Regions from separate parts of the Homo sapiens genome. Here region 1 is linked to region 2. The links come from fine-mapping of genetic effects on gene expression. A gene starts in region 2. The other region holds a variant in brackets. All regions are shown on one strand. Distances are between the middles of the regions. Region 1 overlaps ATP10A (ATPase phospholipid transporting 10A (putative)). Region 2 holds the start of ATP10A (ATPase phospholipid transporting 10A (putative)).

Evidence for each region. PIP is the estimated chance that this variant, and not a neighbour inherited with it, causes the effect. A credible set is the group of variants that fine-mapping cannot tell apart.
Region 1: its variant is the best candidate, but not a certain one, in a credible set for the expression of ATP10A in whole blood (INTERVAL, PIP 0.78).

What each region holds. Positions count from the first base shown.
Region 1 is chr15:25,772,799-25,778,168 of GRCh38, forward strand. All of the region lies in intron 2 of ATP10A (ATPase phospholipid transporting 10A (putative)), which reads right to left. Among named protein-coding and RNA genes, the nearest start is that of MIR4715, 73 kb to the right of the region's middle. The variant A/C (reference allele first, on the strand shown) is at 1,991.
Region 2 is chr15:25,860,216-25,865,519 of GRCh38, forward strand. ATP10A (ATPase phospholipid transporting 10A (putative)) reads right to left here and starts at 3,112. Exons shown (of 21, transcript NM_024490.4): 1 at 2,433-3,112. The coding sequence starts at 2,881. ATP10A-DT (ATP10A divergent transcript) reads left to right here and starts at 5,055. Exons shown (of 2, transcript NR_183988.1): 1 at 5,055-5,304.

The DNA.
Region 1 (5,370 bases), 87 kb before region 2:
ACACTCACATTTCTTGTCCTTTTACAGTTTTGGGAGGCGGGGAACATAAGGCCTTCTGACAGACACACTACTGAAAAGGGCTTTGTGAAAACTGACAAATTGAAGAAGTTTGCAGGCCTGATCTCAGCTTGGTTAAAAGTCTCACTGGGGTTCACGAAGTCATTTCCTTGGCACACGGATTATTCATTAGCAATGGTGAAAAAGCCCTGAATTAATTTCGACACTAAACCCAACTGAGATGTCAGGAAGCCCAGTTTCATCCACATCCCAGTAGGCAATAGTGTTTCCTGAAGTCGAGTTCTTGCTTTCCTTAAAGGTCGATTCCTTTATAAGGTCTGGTTTATGTGACTATATGAAACTGCAAATGTGTTCATGGATCTCTGCTGCTGTAGACGGGCGAAACTCTAAGGAAGCCCTAATACCACAGTGAGAACCAAAATACAGCCTTCCACTTGAGGAGCACTCGCAAACCGAAAGCATTGCATAGGTTGAACGAGGGAAGCTGGCTCTTACCAATTCACAAAATTAAGATAACTCCAATGTCTGCGGAGGTGCTCTGACAGGTCTTGCATTGTGCTCTGTGGACACAAGGAAGTTCCCTCTTGTTGAAAGCTGTGCTCACAAAACAAGCAGAAGGGAAATGACACACAGCACAGGGCCTCCACCAAGGGACAAAGGTTCCAGAGTCCAATCAGCAGAAGTGGATTGCGTGGGCACCCCTCACGTAATGCATGGGCTCACAGCAGGTCCTCAATAGTGAGATTGGAAACTCCAGATTCCCCTAGGGAGCACTCTCTTGCAGAGCAATCCACTTCTGCAACACTATATCTTAGCCCAGGAGGGAACATTTATCCTCTCCTAAATTTAGAGATAATAGAAAGTGACAACCTAATAAAGCAATATCACTTCATTTTGCTTTCTTCTTTGGAACATACACTTACTTGCACACTCACTTGCAAAAATGTTTGCACTCACACCTGTCTGCATACACACTCACACAAACATACACACCTAAACATCCACACACACACACACACACACACACACACACACATATTCACTCACTCATGAGGAGATGCCTAGTGTTAACTGCGTCGATCTCACATTGTCACCTCTTCCTACTGGTAAGGAAATCCCTGCTCCAGAAACACACATACACACAGAGGAAGTTTCAAACCCTTTGCAACTGCTGATGCAATTAAACTACATTTAGGAAAATTGGAAATTTTATTAAATTCCCGTTTTTTTTTTTAAACAGTGAAAATATAGTTAAAGAGAAAAAAAGCATTTCACATTGTACGCTACCTTGAACAGAATTAAAACATCTTACTGCTTTGGCTGTCTTTTTACTTCTGGAATAAGAAATGATCATTTCCAACCACACAAAAAATTTTAAGTTTCCACACAATATAAGAAGATCTTTTTGGATAAATATTTCAGACTAGCCAAATTATTATCAACTTCATGGCATTAATTTATTCATTTAGATCAGAGGTTCGGGTGCGGTAGCTCACACTGGTAATGCCAGCACTTTGGGAGGCCAAGATGAGTGGATCACCTGAGGTCCAGAGTTCAAGACCAGCCTGACCAAGACGGAGAAACCCCGTCTCTACTAAAAATACAAAATTAGCCGGGAGTGGTGGCACATGCCTGTAATCCCAGCTACTTGGGAGGCTGAGGCAGGAGAATCACTTGAACCCGGGAGGCAGAGAGGTTGCAGTGAGCCGAGATAGTGCCATTGCACTCCAGCCTGGGCAACAAGAGCAAAACTCCGTCTCAAAAAGAAAAAAAAAAAAAAAAGATCAGAGTGCTGGTGCTGCACTCTCTGTACATGGTGATTTAATAGACTATAAATTAAAGGCAAAGAATCCATTATGAAGTCACCAGAATTTAAAAAAAAAATCTTCTTCGGGCCAAACTTATATTGCCATGAAATAAACACAGTTAATATGAAAAAACATGGTATGTCTCAAATAATCATATTACCTAC[A/C]GAACTGAATTTCTATGAATATCCACACTTGTTAGAATTAAAAATTTAATCTAAATAAAGTTATTGTATTGTCAAAGTCATTTATTTCTGTCTTTCCTGTTACAGATTTAATGTCCTTCAAGAAAATTATGAGATTGTTAAATTTAAAAACAAAAATGTCTCAGTATAAATTATGAGCTTGTTGACTATCCTTGAATGTATAAGAGAAAAACATGGAAGCCTCTTTGTAAAGGCTTAAAACTGACCGATCTAATTACCATACCCAGGCAGCTGTCTTTATTTTCCACTTAGATGATAGATTATGCTGCCTCCTTCAATTCCACGGCCAATGTAGCTAAATTTCATTAAAGACTAACAACTTGAAAAGCTTAGGGAAAAAGAGACTTGGGTACAAAAACTACCTTGCAAATTATACTTTTTCACTTCTAGTTTTCCTGTGATAGAGACAATTTTGGAAGCATGTGTAGGTAGCAGTTTTTTAAAAAAAATATTTTGTCTTCTACATATTTGGACTTTTGAAGTCACTTTCTAAGCTTCTGAATTCTGTCAAGTAACTTGGGGTGGGACTGACTCTCCTTTGTAAAGAAAACCGTGCTGAGTCAGAGCCTGAATACACCAGGCCCCCCAGGGACTGGTCACAGTGTATTCACAAAACAGAGGGGAAACCCTGTCTCCGCCTTGGCATCACTGCTGACCTGACTGTGAAGGTACGTGTTTAAGAGCAGTGTTTGTCCAGCCTAGGAAGTTTCCATACTCCTTTTATCTTTCTTCCTTATTTGGAACACGCACCACTGTGCACACACACACGTGCACACATGTGCACACGCCTGGGAAGAGTCAGCAGCAGATCTTCCTGCAAGCCTGACAATGACTACTCCCCACAGCGCTGCACAGAGGACGTGGGTGTGGCTGGGATTGTGGGCACTCATCCAAACAGGTCCACCCAAGAGACAAACTGTTGGAAACTATTTTCTCAGTAAATTAACCCACACAGAAGTCACCTCTGGGACGGCTCTTCCCGACACTGACGTGTCCTCTGGGTCTGGACTCTCCAGCTGTTCTCAAGCAGGACAGCCCTGTCCCCGCCTCACCCCGGCTGAAATTCCAACACTCATCTGACATTTCATATCCCTGTTTCTGCTTTCTCGTCTACAGTTAGCACCGAAGACTTCAACCGTCTATCCAACTTTTCACATAGATCATGTAAGCACTATGGCAGGAAAGATGTTCCCCAGTTTTGATCAATGCACCTCCTAGAATGGCGTTAGAAACATAATAAATGCTCAGTACGTATCTGCTGAATGAATTAAAACTTACAAAAATGAGTCTTTGAAAACACTGAGTTTTATATAAAATTATCAGTCTAGGGATCTCCTAGTTCTGCAGAAATGACAAATGTTACAAATGAACTAGAAACTGCTACCCACAGAACATCTGAACGTATGCACCTTCGTGGCAGGGCTGCACGAATGTGCAGGTGAGAGACAGCAGACACCCCACGCAAAGTGGAGGAACCCGCTCCGAATCCACACTGACGGATGGGGTGGGGGAGGGGAGGCACCTTGGGAGAATCTCCTGACTTCACTTTTTCTGTTTCTCATCTATAAATTGGTGTGATAATCATTATCTCACAAGATTTATACTTAAAATTCTGTGAAATTGTGTTTAAAAATGTTTGCTCTACTACAGTTGTGGGAGATACAGTAGGCCTGGCGTGCAGGAGGCTGAACAAATGTGAGACATTGCCTGACAGTGTGATGCTCCACACGGGGGCCTCTCTCAATTCTTGGATAACATCCATTCAACTCCAACTCTTACATCAAATCTTTACGTCTCAAGATCTCTGTTTCTTTTGCCAGAAGTGAAATAGCTGGGTGATTTAAGGTCCCGGAGCCATCAGCCCGGTGTCTAGGCCTCGCCTTCAGATTCTGGGGTCTGGGTGGGCCATGCCCACCGCCTTCCGGTTTTTGTTGTAGCCCCTCAACACTGCGCACTTTTTCAAATGCTCTTCATTAAATACAACCCTATTCCGCCTCTGGGGCACCATCTGACGGACGTCATTCCCTGTAGTGCCTGGCACCTGAGACCTCTCCATCCTGGCCTTCAGAGTCAGTTTCAAGCTCCTCTTTCTGGAACCTCCCTTGACCTCTCATGGCCCCAAACCCCTAACAAAAGCCCCCTGGACTCATCTCACTGCTCCATACTGGGCATCACTGGTGAATAGGCCTGAGTCCTCCACGTATTGGTCCCATGGCTGGTCTTTAGGTGGGGTGTGTGTGTGTGTGCATGCGTGTGTGTGCATACGTGCGTGTGTGTGTGTGTGTGTGTGTACCCGTTCCGCACTGCCCACTCCCTCCAGGTTTCTCCAGGGCTTGGCCTGCTCCACACTTTCCCCATCTCTCAGTCCGGGGTACCCTGGACATATTCCTGCAGGCAACATGGGCCCTCTCAAGCCCAGGCTGCTGCTCCATGCACCCTCTCAAAGGTGGGGCTCCACGGCGCTGCTGTCTAGAGAGCTGTCACCAGTCTTCATCCACTGCAGCGAGGGCCTGGCTCCAGCAGCGTCCAGCAACTGCTCCTGGCATCTAGCAAGTTCTTATGCTTGGCACCTCCCTGGCAATAGCCTCCCCGGTCCCCAAGGGAAGGCTTCTAGCAAGTTCCACCAGTACAGCCCCTAAGTACCTTTCCTGCCATCCCCAAATTTAAGGCTGTGCCCCCTGCCATGGTTCAGGGGTTGGGAGGGTACTCTTCCCTGAGTGGGAGAACTCTGTCTCAGAGCCAGGGGCAGTGGCTGTCCCTTCATCAGCTATTCCCATATATATATATTGGAGACAGAGATAGGGTCTCTGTCCCCCAGGCTGGAGTGCAGTGGCATGATCACAGCTCACCACAACCTCAAACTTCTGGTTCAAACCATCCTTCCCATTCAATCCCTTGAGCAGCTAGGACCACAGCTGCACACCACGATATCTGGCAATTTTTTTTCTTTCTTTCTTTTTTTTTTTTTGAGATGGGGTTTCTCTGTGTTGCCCAGGCTGGTCTGGAATTCCTGGCCTCAAACAATCCTCCTGTCTCAGCCTCCCAAAGTGCTGGGATTATGGGCGTGAGCCACTGTTCCTGGCTCCTATATTCTTCAGGGTCCTCTTTATTTCTTTTTTATTTATTTTTTTAAAGATAACAGCTTTATTGAGATATAATTCACATATCATTACTTCTTATAACCCAATCCCCAACTAAGAATTCTTCACATCAGACTTTCTCTGATTGAATCATGTGTGGTTTCTGTCTCCTGACTGGACCCCGCTGGATACCCTAAGTTCCTGCATTAATGACACAGCCCGCTCTTCTCCTTAACCTAAGCGTTGCAAATCACTTCTAAT
Region 2 (5,304 bases):
CCGCCCCCGATCTCTCACTGCAGCACCCACTCTCTGCCCCACCTTGCTTGGCACCATTTTCCTGATCCTCACACCACCGTCCCAGACTCTTGTCCTGCACTGGGACGCCTCGCCAGACATGGAGCCTGCATCCCGGGGCTGGGAGCCCCACCCAGGACTTCACCTGGTAGACATGCCCTATGGTGCCATCTGTCCCTACAGTAAACTCTGGGTGAAACCAGCCTCCTCCTCCTTCTATTCCCAGGGCCTGGCACCACCTCTTCCAGCCTTTCTGGGACTGGAAGAATTTGACCTGCCTTCCCAGGGAACAATAAACAGAAGTAGGGCATTGCGCCCACTGTCCTCAAGGCAGCTGGGAAGTGAATGAAAAATGCTGACAGTTCCTTCAGTAAGGAAGAAGACAGAGTCTGAGGGAGAGTTAAGATATCTGGAGTCAAGGGCAGAGTGGAAGGGGAGGGGAACGTAGATGGGTGTAGTCCAAATGGAAGCTAAAGTTTCAAAGTCCCATGAAGCCTTACAAGGTCACAGAGACAAGAGAATAGCTTTTAGATCCCAACCTCAGTTTCCTCATCGGCAAGATGGGTGTGATAGTTACTATAAGGATCGAATGACATAATGGATTCAAAGCACTTTGCCAACTGAAAATAAACTGTATTTCTCCTGAGGCATAAGTATTTCTAAAAAGGAGGCTACAGGAGTTACGGGCTCAGTAATAACAGGAAGTGGTATCTGTGCAAAGGCTTAAAACTGTTGAGCCCCACCAGGGCTATGTGGTGGAGGCCTCGCTCAGGGGACACGGAGGCCATTTGTGTAAGGGGTGCCGCTCTTGTCCCTGCTCAGGCTTCTGGTGAACAGGGGCCAGGAAATCCCACAGCCCGGTCTAATGACAGTCACTCTTGCTGACTGGCCAAAGAGCAAGGCTTGGGAGCAGGCAGAGTGGTGTTTCTGAAAGTGTGGGCCATCATATAAGAGTTACGTGCACGCTAATCTAATACATTCCTGGGCTCAATCCCAGGCCTGCTGAGTGAGACACTTTGGAAAACTGTAATTTTAACAAGCGCCTTCAGTGACTCTTACAAAAGTTTCAGAAGCACGAGCAAAGAAATATTCAAAAAGCTGTGCGGGCGGGAAGACCTGGGTCAAATCCCAGTACCACGACCTTGCTGCTGTGTGACACTGGGCAGGTTTACTTAACCTCTCTGAACCCGTTTACTCTGTTTACAAAAATATGGAGCATAACCACTGCAGTGTTGCTGGGAGGGTGAAAGGTACTCAACTACAGAGGCACGCATCCATGGCTTCATCCAAGCTATGAGTGCCTGTGTCTAAGGCATTCGTGAATGCCTACGTTTAAGAGGCAGGAGCCACTCTGACCCTCCTCTTTTAGGGGAACAATCTGCCACTAAGAGAGCATAGGGCTTCCTAGAGTCTCCCCATGCATAATGGAAGCCAGATACCGCTAATGTTCTATTCAGAAGCCCATCTCAGTCCCTGTTCCGGGGTCAAGCAAGGTGAGGCAGGAGGTAACGATGGGCTGAGCTTTGGAGGAAAGCTAAGACGACCCACCTTTCTCAGGGACAGGGCCTTGAGGTGGTCCAGGCTGCTGGACACAGCTCCAAGATGGATCTACCAAGGGGCTCTCCTGGGGTGGAGAGCATAAAGGATGAAAAGGCCGCAGGCCTCTGGACAGGTCCGCCGGAGACTCTAAAACTCAGGGAGGGAAAAAGAGCAGGAGTGGTCCATCGCAGGGTCACCCCTGGTACTGCCCGTGGCAGGGCTCACAAACACCCCACAGCCTCTTTCCCCCAGGAAGCAGGTTAAGATGAAGAAAATTAGGCAGGCAGCTACCGGGCGGTGCCTGGCTCGCGGCTCATGGCTCACAGTGGAGGATGGACACTGCTGTTATTTCCCCTGCCCTGGTACCTGGGCCGTGCCAGACATATCAGCACTTGGCGGCAGTTTCACTTTGCTGCTGTCCTGAGCCGAGCTGTTAGCAGACTGAGCTTTACTGTCCTGTGCCGGCTGTTCAGAGACCACTGTGCCTGGCCGAAGACTGAGGCAGGGACTTCAGGCCAGGGGGCCAGGCTGGCTTTTCCTGCCTTTCACTTCAGGTGGGAGCGGCTGTGGATGAGGATGTCCAGCGGCCGTCGGTTTCTAGCCTTGGGATCATTCTGGCCCCGACACGGAGTGACAGGGGATCCCCACGCGTCCCCGCATCCAGGGCGCCCCTTTAGCTGCGGCGGAGGCACAGAGAGGCCTTGGCGGCGCTGTGGCTTCGGTCGGCACCGGGTCCCGCGCAGCCGGGCCCTCCACCCTGAGTGGAGCTGCCTTCTAAGCACCCAGCCCCTGCCAATCACTGTGCCCAACACCAAGTTCCCGGGGCGCCCTGCCCTGCGCCACCGCGCGCTCGCTCGCCCGCCCGCCCAACTCACCTGCTGAAGACCAGGCAGCCCAGGTGGTTGATCTTGTGGTCGGAGCGGTGGCGGCTGTAGTCCTCCCACAGGTCCCTGAAGGCCGTGATGGCCAGGATGAAGAGCACCGGCGCCAGTGCCAGGCCGGGCTGGAAGGCGTTCACCGCCGGCACGAAGTTGAGCAGCGCGATGAAGACAAAGTACACGTTGGCCGGGCGGTGGAACTGCTCGAACAGGTTCTTGGGCAGGAAGGACAGCAGCGTGTACTTGGTAGTCTTGAGCCGGTTGTCGGCCAGGTGCTGGGCACACCCGCGCCGCCGTCGCCGCTCGCCCTTGGCCGCGCCAGCCGCAGGGTCCTCGGCGCCCGGGGGCGGCAGCAGGTTGGAGCGCACCGTGCGCGTCCTGCCCTCTCGGCGCCTCCGCCGTCCCGGAGGCCCGGGCTCCTCGGTCCCCGCCGGCTCCCGCTCCATGGCCGCGTGTCGCCGCGCCCGGCTCCTCCGCCGCTCACGCCCGCCCGCGCCGGCCTCTTAGGTTATCATCACTCGCGGCCCGGGCGCGGCGGTGCGAGCTCCCCGCCTGCGGGACGCACGGAGACCGCGGTCAGCGCGCCGCCTGGCCGGCCCAGCGCGCCCAGCCCGCGCCCAGCCCCGTCCACTCCCGTCCAGCCCCGCCGCCCGGCCGCAGTCCCCAGGGCGCAAGCTGGGCGGGTGCCGCACAGAGCCCCCTTGTCCTCGCCGCCCGCCCCCGGCCCGGGTCGTTTCCGCCGCGGTGGCCACGGCCCCGCCCTCGTTCCGCGCCCGGACTGGGCCACGCCGGATAGCGGGAAACAAAAAAAGCCCGAGCTGGAAACTTCAGAGAGGTTTAGTTTCGTTTCCCAGAAGCATCAGTTCGGTCCCAAAACGCTGCAAACGCGCGCTGCCTGCAGTAGGAGAGAGGAAACCGCGAAGCGCGAGAAAAGGCGCCCCCGTCCCCAAGCAGCCCGCGCGCCCTTCCAGGGGCCAGACCTGCTCCATCCTGGACGGCGAAACGACCTCGGGAGACCCCGGTTAGGACCTTACTCCAGGGATCAACTGGAATCAAAATCCAAAGGATCCATGGCATCCAGTGCTCCAATTTTTAAGTCTTTTTTACGCAGGACCTCTGCTCCTGGGGAGCCCTGGGAAGGGCGATTCCGCGTTGCCTCTAAGAACTTCTTTCCTACCCCACTTCCCAGCCCCCACCACTTTCAGATTCCGTTGTTGGGCGAACTAGACCGTTTCCTTTCCACCATCATCATTACTGCCTTTCCTTCCTCTCCTAAATAAATTCTTTTTCTTTTTTCTGTTCTTTCTTCATGGAAAGGAGAAATATATCGCTATAGCAAAGACAGAATTTGGTTTGCAGGTATTTGAGTGTCTGTTTCCCTCCCTGGGAAATCATGAGGACCGAAACGCTCCTTGTGCGCTGTAGCTCTGAGGTGGCTGTCATGGCCCGGACGGCGGGGGAGGCGAGGATGGTTGTGGGGAGGCGAGGATGGTTGTGGGGAGGAGAGGGGAGCGTCAGGAGGGTGTCCCAGAAGTGTGGGGCGAAGGGCTCCCCTCCACATCATGGGGCATCCGAGAAGGGGTGGGAGAATAAGCACGGCATGGAAAAAGGAGCTGGGAGTCCCCCACGTCCGCAGTGAGACCCCACAGATGTTTCATGGCTGTGACTGTTTGCCTCCCACTCAAGAAGTACAGAGATGAGAAGCAGTTATTTCTTGCCCAGGAGGCCGTGGCTGGGCGGTTGGCCGTGGCCCCAGGCTCTTCCTGGGGGTGCCTGCTAACAAGGCACTGCCCTGGATGGACTCAAATCACGTCTTCGCCAGGACCCTGGCTTGGGGAGGCCCTCCCCTCCAGCACCCTGGCTTACCCGGCTCCAGTTATGACATTCTTACATCTCTGCCCAGTTTTGCCACCATCCACAATGTTGCCCAGAACCCAGTGTTAGAAGGTAGAGTGGTGACAGGTGTGAAGAAAATAATCCCATCCCCCAGTCACAGGGGTGGGCTTTTGACATGTAGAGGCCCAGATCAGGGAAAGGTTTGGCTGAAGTCTGCATTGTTGGGGAAAGGAGTCAGGTCTCACAGTCAACCAGCAGAAACCCAAACGGAGCATCAACTGCAAATGAAGGCCCACAGCGCCTGCAGTCTTGAGGCCTCACATCCCATGGCTCCGTGTTTTCCTCTACCAGCCCACCTGGTGACCCCCGAGGCCTTCGGCCTCCCTACACTTCGGCCTCCTGTCTTCACAGGCATCCCCGTGGACCCTTCGCCCAAAGTCTCCAGGGGTGTCCGCGCCTACCAGACTCCCAGCTTCAGCCAGTCCACACTGTTGCCAAAGTAATTACCGCCTCATTCCATTTGCTTACCCTGGAGCTTCCAGGAGTACTCCTGGTGCTTACAAAGCCAAATGCTGATTCCTCAGGCAGAGGTCCCTTGAGGCCCTGAGGGGAACCAGCTTGCTGATTTTCTTCAGCCCCTCCCTGGTTCAGGCCCAGCCCCAAGGTGAGAGGTCTCCTTATCCTTCTCAGAACAGTCCTTACTCATCCCATCCACATTCCGCTCTAAGGTTCCAAGATTCTGTGAGTCACAATGCTCCTCAAGTCTGGAATCTTTTTCCACCTGCTCTTCCCCAGTGCAAAGTCAGGATTTCCAGGAAGGCCTAGCTCAGCTCACCTCTGGAAAGGTCTCCAAGCTGTGTGATCTGGGGAATCGTGGAGGGGTTTTGAGCTCAGGTGTCTTCTGCCAGCTGGACTCTGAGACCCTGGCCTGCTGGGGCGAGGATGAGGCTCTGATGTGGTCTGGTCAACTCTGGGTTGGCCATCTGCACCACAGGGCTCTAACAAGGGCCTGCTATAGGCCATGAGAACCACT